Homo sapiens: one gene and its partner. The protein of the gene in region 1 purifies or fractionates together with the protein of each later gene. This does not show direct contact. Each region holds a gene or a part of one and is shown on either strand. Other genes may lie near its edges.

Evidence for each region. The genes of interacting proteins can lie anywhere in the genome.
Region 2: the proteins of PIGF (region 1) and WDHD1 purify together in Homo sapiens (affinity purification with mass spectrometry; one large-scale study listed by BioGRID and IntAct). This does not show direct contact.

The regions. Positions count from the first base shown.
Region 1 is NC_000002.12:46,588,570-46,594,149, reverse strand, and holds part of PIGF (GPI ethanolamine phosphate transferase, stabilizing subunit), read left to right. Parts: exon of another isoform or gene 1-792; intron 793-1,566; coding exon 1,567-1,675; intron 1,676-2,224; coding exon of another isoform or gene 2,225-2,242; exon of another isoform or gene 2,243-3,003; intron 3,004-5,580.
Region 2 is NC_000014.9:55,020,600-55,024,099, reverse strand, and holds part of WDHD1 (WD repeat and HMG-box DNA-binding protein 1), read left to right. Parts: intron 1-3,500. UniProt on the Homo sapiens protein: Core replisome component that acts as a replication initiation factor. Binds directly to the CMG complex and functions as a hub to recruit additional proteins to the replication fork.

The sequences.
Region 1 (5,580 bases):
TGGCCAGTTTTTCCTTCCAACATTGGAACACATCTCTGTTCTATTGAATGCTAGTTGAAAAAGCTGACTTATATTTATAGGTGTTACATGAAATAAAAAAGAATAATAAAGCCCTACAAATAGTACAAATTTGGATATATGTGATTGGCTCCAGCCCGTTCTTAGCCCTGCTTCTCAATGGAAACAAGCTAAGGCTCTTATCTTGTGTAGTTGGGGAGTATGAGATGGAGGATGATAGAGGGATTGGTTTGTGAACTGACTTGTCATCATTTGGGACTTTTAAAATTCAGTGTACATTTTGCGTGTAATAATTGGCCTGTTTCTAGTTAAATAAATCATCTAACAAAACAAATGTTTTCCCCCATACTATCTAGAAGAGGCTACTTTTCAATAACTTCACCTTGCAATTTAAACAATTGAATATTTGGACCCCACTTAGTGCATTGCAGTGGGCTTTTACCTGACTGTAACCAGACTCCTGTTCTACATGATGAAGTGTTCACCCTATGAGGGCCAGGCTGAAACTAACACCTACTAAGAGAATGGCAGAATTAAGTCTTTCCACCTTTACACTCTCAGATGTGCACTTAGTAAATAGGAACGGTAGGCAGAATCACCAGATCTTTTGAAATACTTTGTTCTTGTTCTCTGCCTGTTTCTTGCCAAGTAAATTGAATTGGTTTATATAAATGAAGTGTGCTGTAAGAAAGACTAGTTGAGGCCGGGTGCAGTGGCTCATGCCTATAATCCCAACACTTTGGGAGGCCAAGGTGGGTGGATCACAAGGTTAGGAGTTCGAGACCAGCCTGGCCAACACAGTGAAACCCCATCTCTACTAAAAGTACAAAAATTAGCTGGGCATGGTGGCACACACCTGTAATCCCAGCTACTCAGGAGTCTGAGGCAGGAGAATCGCTTGAACCCGGGAGGCTGAGGTTGCAGTGAGCCGAGATCGCTCCATTGCACTCCAGCCTGGACACAGAGTGAGACTCCGTCTGAAAAAAAAAAAAAAAAAGAAAGACTGGTTGAATAAATGATGCACCATCCATACAATGGAATACTGTTACAGCTGTTAACAAGGAAAAACAAGCAAAACTTGGTTTATAACATGATGCATCTGAGTTTTGTTTTGAAGAAATATACATATGTACATGTGTATTTATGCAAATGTACATATATCCTTCAAAACAAAATTATGTGTGTATTTGTGCCTGTATAAAATATTTCTGGAAGAATATGTAATAATTTAGCATAATAGCAGTTGCCTGTGGGGAAAGGAACCAGGAGTTGATGATAGGGGTGGAAGACTTAGCTGTTTCTACAAATGCTCTTTAACATGGTTTGACTCCTAGTGCGTCTGTATATTACCTTTCCAATGGAAAACATTTACATCTTCTTACCAATTAACTATTAATAGTTCATGGTAAATATGTATATGTCATTTTGAGATTTTCATTTTAAATTAGCAGGAAATATATGTATACTGATAATGTGTGCTAGTGCTTGTTGGATTCTCCAGCAGCTCATGTATATACCACCAACGATGTACCAATTTGTGTTTCACAGAGTTACATCCATATGGGAGAATAGTCTCCAGATCACTACAATTTCTAGCTTTGTAGGAGCATGGCTTGGAGCACTTCCTATTCCACTGGATTGGGAAAGACCATGGCAGGTTGGTTTCAGTTACTTAAAGCAACAAAATAAATGTTTGTACAATGATAGTAAAACAGATGAAGCAAACTAGTGTGTATATGTAAATTGTTTTGTTGTTCAATTAAGTAGGGATACCACTTCTATCAGTCACTGTAATCTGGGCAGCTTCTTAATGGGGACTGTCCAGTGCCACAGGTGTCTAGGTAGCCCTGGTTTTATCTTCTAGCACTATTTTTTGCACATGTGTAGATGAATAAACAAGCTTATTTTGTGATTGTATATAGGCGGTTTGTTTATTGTTTTTAAAAAAGACAGGTTCTCACTCTCTTGCCCAGGCTGTCCTCTAATGCTTGGGCCTAAACGATCTTCCTGCTTCAGCCTCCCAAGTGGCTGGGACTACAGGTGTGTGCCACCGAGCCCAGCCAGTATAGGAATTTTTAAAAACTAGGTTAATAGCTGCAGAAATTTCCTATTTTCAACTTTGATATTTATTGCCCTTGTGGTCTTATATTCATATTTTCTGAACTTGATTGATGGCCAAATTGAATGTTCCTCTTGAAATTTTTAGAAGCAGATAGCAAGGTAATTTTTGCAGCAGCGGCCTGTGTTATCAAGAAAGCTCACAAACATCAGATTTTTCGTCTTGTATCACAATAAGATAAAGCTGATATGCTAGGTAAAGCACTGTGAGGTAAGTGCTCTTTTTATACCCATTTTACAGATGAGGAAACTGACACCTAGAGGGTATGTAACATTCCCAAGGTCACTGAACTTACAGTGATGACTGTATCTTTATCTTAATATTAATGACTTTGTAGTATGCCATTATATACTTTATAACTTATTTAACAAATTCACTATTGATCATTTAGATTATTGCCAGTATTTTGTGATAATAAACACTGCTGTGATAAAATCTTTGAATCTATAGCTTCTTGAATTTTTCTAATTAGGTTCACAGAGTAATTACTCCCAAAAAGAATTATGGTATTAAAAAATAAATGTGCTTTCTTTTTCCAACATGAAGATAATTTTTTTCTGATCACGAAGATAATGTATATTTATTTAGAAAATTAAAGCAATATTAGTAATTCTAAGGAAGAAAGTAAAAATTACTTTCCTCCCCAACCACCCAGAGGAAACCTCCATTTGCTTTTGGTGATAATTTTTGCAGCTGTCTCTCTCCATGCCTGTAACTATAATATTCATGTTGTTTTTAATCTGCTTTTTCCCCTCAGCAGTATATTATGGAGCTCATTCTATGTCAATGAAAACTTACATATATGTAATATTCGATTATTTGTGTAAAATATTGTACCAGTTTTTTATTAAAGAACATTTAGGTCATTTCCTATTTTACTATTATTATTTTATTATCAAATATGGTCATTATCATACTTATACATCTTTGCATATTTGTCCAATTTTCTCTGTAGGGTAGAGTCCTACCTAATGAATTGATGAATTAAATCTTTGATACATACCTCATTTGCCAAATGTGGGATCCAGATTGTGTGCCTTGCACATAACTGCCTACATTTAGCTCTATTCTTTGTGCTTTCAGTTAGATGTCGTGTCTCCCCGAAAGTCAAATTGTTGTTTCATGTTTAATAGGTCTGATAGGTTTGCCCTTCCCTGTTTTAACTCTTCATCACTATATTAGAGAAATCCTTGGAGGTTTGGTGTGTGTATCGTCACAGATTCCCATCTCAAGTTTTTGGTGCTAGTAAAGGTTTCTTAAGTTGACATCTTATAGAAGTCATCCATACTTGATGTCATTCAACAGAGTGTCAGTGATTTCTAAATTGGAGGACAATCAAAATCATTGAAAAGTATACACAGAAAATTGAAACTGTGTAGATTCATTGCTATCAAGTAATGCAATTAAATCTAAATAGAAAGTATTGATAAATAAAGTACTATGGGACATTAGCTTTAATGAGTTGGTAAGATATAATAATCATTTTGTATATGATGCAATACATTAGAGTGTAAAGGTTTGATATATTACACATAATTTAAGTCTTTTCTGTTTACAAGACAGTGCAGTAGTAGAAACTGAACTAAGAGGAATGAATATATGTGCTTTATAAAATATGTGTTTAGGTTTGCTTAGAAAATATATATCTTAATTATTTACAGTTCAGTCACCCATTTTGGGATTGTTCAGGCTTTTAGCTGATGACCCATTTTTCTCCCTCAGTGCTTGTTAACAATAAGGATGAACTAGATCCAAATTGATGGTATTACTTTTTAAATTAATGTAAAGTTTCCATTTGAATTACTGACTTTTTAAAAAGATTTTCTAGGTAGCTGGAAATTAATTTAATTTTAAATCTAATTTAAATACATAACAAGTGTTGGTTTCCATTAAGAGTGTTTCATTCAGCTGGAATATTACTGGCCATGTAATTATCTTTACTATTGGGTTGTTTTTAGAATATTCCAAGTTAATGACCCACGTATTCACTGTAAACCTTTTAAATTATGAAATGTATTGTTGAGGGAATGATAGAATTGATGTATAATTAAAAATCTTTTATTCATATAGCACTCATCTGCTCCTTGCCCTTTTAGCAGTTATTTACTAATAAACTAAAGAAATGAGGTTTTTTTTTCACTTTTTATTTCCAGCAAACAAGGTTGTTTGTTTTTTTGTTATTGTTATTTTTTAATAATTCTAACTCCACAGAACAGCATCTCCCAGAGAAGCAATAAATCAGATAAGGGAATATGGCATTTTCTAAAAGTGGAGATGTTGTTAGAGCAAAATTTCATGAGAAGACAATACAGTATACACTTTATTATCTAAAATAGAACATGTATTAAGAGATTCTTGTTCTGTGTTCCTTGTAGCCCAATACCGATTTGATCTGCTTGTGGTAAAGCAAGCTTTTCTGGATTGTGTTCTGGTTTTATTTATATTCCAGTCAGAGAAACAGGAATATCTGGTTAAGCAATTGTACCTTTAAAAACACACACATGCACACACACACACAAAACCCCACAAAATCTACTACATGTTTTAATTCAGTTTTCTTTACTTTGAACTCAAACCATTGTATAACATTCCTGAGGCCAAGCATAAGATTATAGTGATGTGGATTCTGTAATGAGCTGTTTCAAGCATATTTTTATGTTTAAAATAATTTCTTCATTAAATGACTGGAAAGGCCCACTGAAAATATGTGATCTCAATGTAAAAGTTTTTTAACTTAATATAAATCTTAAGTGATTTTAAATAATGGCAAGTGATGAAAGATTAGGCATCTTTATAGTTGGAGGAAGCCTTTCTTTTGTAGAAGGCAGCAAGGGGATATGGTTAAAGAGAATATGGTAGGGTAGCTACCCATTATACTGTTGGTCATCTTTGTTGTTGTTTTAATACTTTAAAGTCATCTTCTTGCCTCTACCTTATTTGCCTTAAAATCTCAGCAAGAAAACAAATATTTGAATTTCCCATAATCCAGATAGGCTTTTTCAACTTCTAGAGAAAGCTTATAGTTGCTGACAAAATAAATATTTGGACTACAGAAAACCTTTGTATTTTATAATTTGATTCTTTATCTGCTGTAACTAAATAGCTAATCAATAAGTATTTGTTGTTATTACTGTATGCATAGCATATGTTCTGTGTAAGTAAGTACAACAGATACTTAAATACACCCAGGACTGGAATTTAATTATTTAATAATTTAGATTTGAACTGTGATTTAGATTTAATATGCTGTAACTATTTCATAGAATATGTAGCTATGAGGTTTTTCATCTGGAAAATGTCTTGTCAAAACATGGCTAGTATTTCATGTTATAAAAAATTAGTGGAAGGTTAAGAAATATTGTTGGTTATTCTGAGCACAGGAAATTGACCATGAGGTTTTTAAACTCACGTTTTATTAATGGGTAGGCAGGTAACATGATGAT
Region 2 (3,500 bases), on another chromosome or scaffold:
AATTTTTGGCAGTTTCTAACAATTTGAAAAAACTAGCAGACGAACCATGTAGCCTAGAAATATGGAAAAATTAAGAAAAAGTATGTCATGAGTGCATAAAATCTATGTAGATACTAGCGTATTTTATCATTTACTACCATAAAATATACACAAATCTATTATAAAAAGTTGAAATGTACTAAAATTTACACACTCAAACATTTCCAGACCATCCGCAGTCAAGAGAAATGTAAACAAACATAAAGATGCAGTGTTAAATCGTCACTACATAAAATTAACTGTAGTATATACTGTATTACTGTAATAATTTCATAGCCACCTCCTGTTGCTATTTCGGTAAGCTTAAGTGTTGTATCTGCTTAAAACACTGTATGAGGTTGTATCTGCTTAAAACACTGTATGATGCTCATGAGCAGTTTGTCTCTCCAGTAAATTGCCTATCCCAGTAAAAAGACATCTCTGGTGATTCTCATATATTTTTCATCATGTTTAGTCCAATGCCGTAAACTTTGAATAACACCATGGGAATCATATGAAGTGCCACTAGTGATGCTGGACATACTCCTAAGAAGCAGACAAAAGTCATGACATTAAGAGAGAAAAGTTGAATTGCCTGATAATGTACTGTAGATTGAGGTCTGCAGTTGCGGTTGCTCACAATTTCAAGATAAATGAATCCAGTGTAAGGACCACTGTGAAAAGGAAATTTGAGACACTGTTACTGCAGCTATGCCAGCAGGCATGAAAACCTTGCACTTTTTGTGAAATAACTTTATCTTGTATTGAAAACGCAGCTTTTATGTGGGTATAGGATTGCAATAGAAAGGCATAGCTATAGACTCTAATGTGGTTCCAGAAAAAGTGAAGTCATTATCTGACAACTTAAAGTGAAAGGTAGGTGAAGGATCTAAAGCTGGAAAGTTTAATACCAGCAGAGGATAGTTTGATAATATCAGAAAGAGATTTGGCTTCGAAAATGTCAAGATGGCCGGGTGTGATGGCTCACACCTGTAATCCCAGCATTTTGGGAGGCCGAGGTGGGTGGATCACCTGAGGTCAGAGCATGCCCAACGTGTTGAAACCCTGTCTCTACTAAAAATGCAAAAAATTAGCCAGGCACAGTGGCAGGCACCTGTAATCCCAGCTACTCAGGAGGCTGAAGCAGGAGAATCACTTGAACCCGGGAGGTGGAGGTTGCAGTGAGCCAAGATTATGCCATTGCACTCCAGCCTGGGGATCAAGAGCGAAACTCCATCTCAAAAAAAAAAAAAAAAAGAAAGAGAAAGGGTCAAGATGGCAATAGAATCAGCTTCTGCTGACCAAGAGACAGCAGATTCCCAGACACCATTACGAAAATCATTGAGGAGAAAGGACATCTGCCTGAACAGGTTTTTTGTTTGTTTGTTTGTTTTGTTTTTTTGAGATGGAGTCTAGCTGTCTCACCGGCTGGAGTGCAGTGGCGCGATCTTAGCTCACTGCAACCTCCGCCTCCTGGGTTCAAGCGATTTTTCTACCTCAGCCTCCCGAGTAGCTGGGATTACAGGCATACACCACCACACACAGCTAATTTTTATATTTTTAGTAGAGACGGGGTTTTGCCATGTTGGCCAGGCTGGTGAACAGGTTTTTAATGTAGACTAAAGTGCCCTATTCTGTGGGGGGAAAAATGCCACAAAGAACATTTATTAGTAAGGAAGGAAAGTGAGCACTAAGATTTAAGGCAGGAAGGCTAACTCTAATGTTTGGTGCAAATACAATCAGATTTGTGATCAGAACTGCCATTATTTATAAAGCTACTAACCCCCGGGCCTTGAAGGGAAAAGATAAACTCCAGTCTCTTAGTTGTATAACAAAAAGACCTAGACAATGAGAACCTTCTTTTCTGGATTGGTTTCACTGATGCTTTGTGCCTGAAGTCAGAAAGTATCTTGCTAGTAAGGGACTGCCTTTAAAATTCTTTTAATGTTGGGCAATGCCCCTGGCCACCCAGAACACCATAAGTTCAATACTGAAGGTGTCAAACTGGTATACTTGCCCCCAAACACAATGTCTCGAATTCAACCTCTAGATGAGGAGTTCATACAGGCCTTTACGGGCTCATTACATAAACTAATCTATGGAAAGGATTGTCATTGCTATGGAAGAGAACCCCAGTAGAGAGAACATCCTAAAAGTCTGGAAGGATTATACCATTGAAGATGCCATCATTGTTATAGAAAAAGCTCTGAAGGCCATCGAGCCCGAAACAAATTCCTGCTGGAGAAAACTGTGTCCAGACGTTGTGCATGACTTAAGATTGACAGCAGAGCCAGTCAAGGAAATCATGAAGGAGATTGTGGGTATGGCAAAAAAGATAAGGGAGCGAAGTAATTTCAAGATATAGACCTTGGAGACATTCAAGAGGTAGCAGACATGGCTGGGCGCGGTGGCTCACACCTGTAATCCCAGCACTTTGGGAGGCCCAGGCAGATGGATCACTTGAGGTCAGGAGTTTGAGATCAGCCTGGCCAACATGATGAGACCCCGGTCTCTACCAAAAACATAAAAAATTGGCTGGGTATGTTGGCATACGCCTGTAATCCCACACTCCACCTTCTCTCAGGAGGTGGAGGTTGCAGTGAGCCGAGATTGTGCCGCTGCACATTCCAGGCTGGCCAACAAAGCAAAACTCTGTCTCCAAAAAAAAAAAAAAGGAACGCTAATAGACACTAAACCGAAGAGTTAGCAGAAGACAATTTGATAGAAATGAGTTCTTCCTAACTACTGCCAAGTGATAAGGAAGAAGATGTAGAAGAAGTAGTGCCAGAAAACAAATTGACTTTAGGCAATCTGGCAGAAGGGTTCTGATTATTCAAGACTGCTTTTGACTTATTTTACAACATAGACCCTTCTATGTTATGAGCACTGAAACTAAAGGAAATGGTGGAAGAAGGATTGGTACTGTATAGAAACATTTTTAGAGAAATTAAAAAGGAAAAGAGTCAGACGGAAATTATGATGTGTTTTTATAAGGTCACACCAAGTATGCCTGCCTCTCCTGCCTCCTCCTCTACTTCCTCCCCCTCTTCCACCTCTGAGACAGTAAGACCAACTCCTCTTCGTGTTCCCCGTCAGCCTTCTCACTGTGAAGACGATAAGGATGAAGACCTTTATGATGATCTACTTCCACTTAATAAATAGTAAATATTTTTTCTCCTCTTTATGATTTTCCTGATATATTTTTTCTCTATATTGCTGTATTGTACAGATACAGTATATAATACATAGACAAAATATGTGTTAATTGTTTATGTTATCAGTAAGGCTTCTACTCAACAGTAGGCTGTTAGTAAAGTTTTAGGATAATCAAAACTTCTATGTGGATTTTTGACTGTTTAGGGGTTGGAACCTGTAATGCCCATGTTGTTCAAGGGTCACCTTTACATCTTTGGCTGATACCTTCCAGAGTTCAGGGTTGAGGTTCTGGCTAAGAATATAAATGTGAGAATTGTCCTTATAAA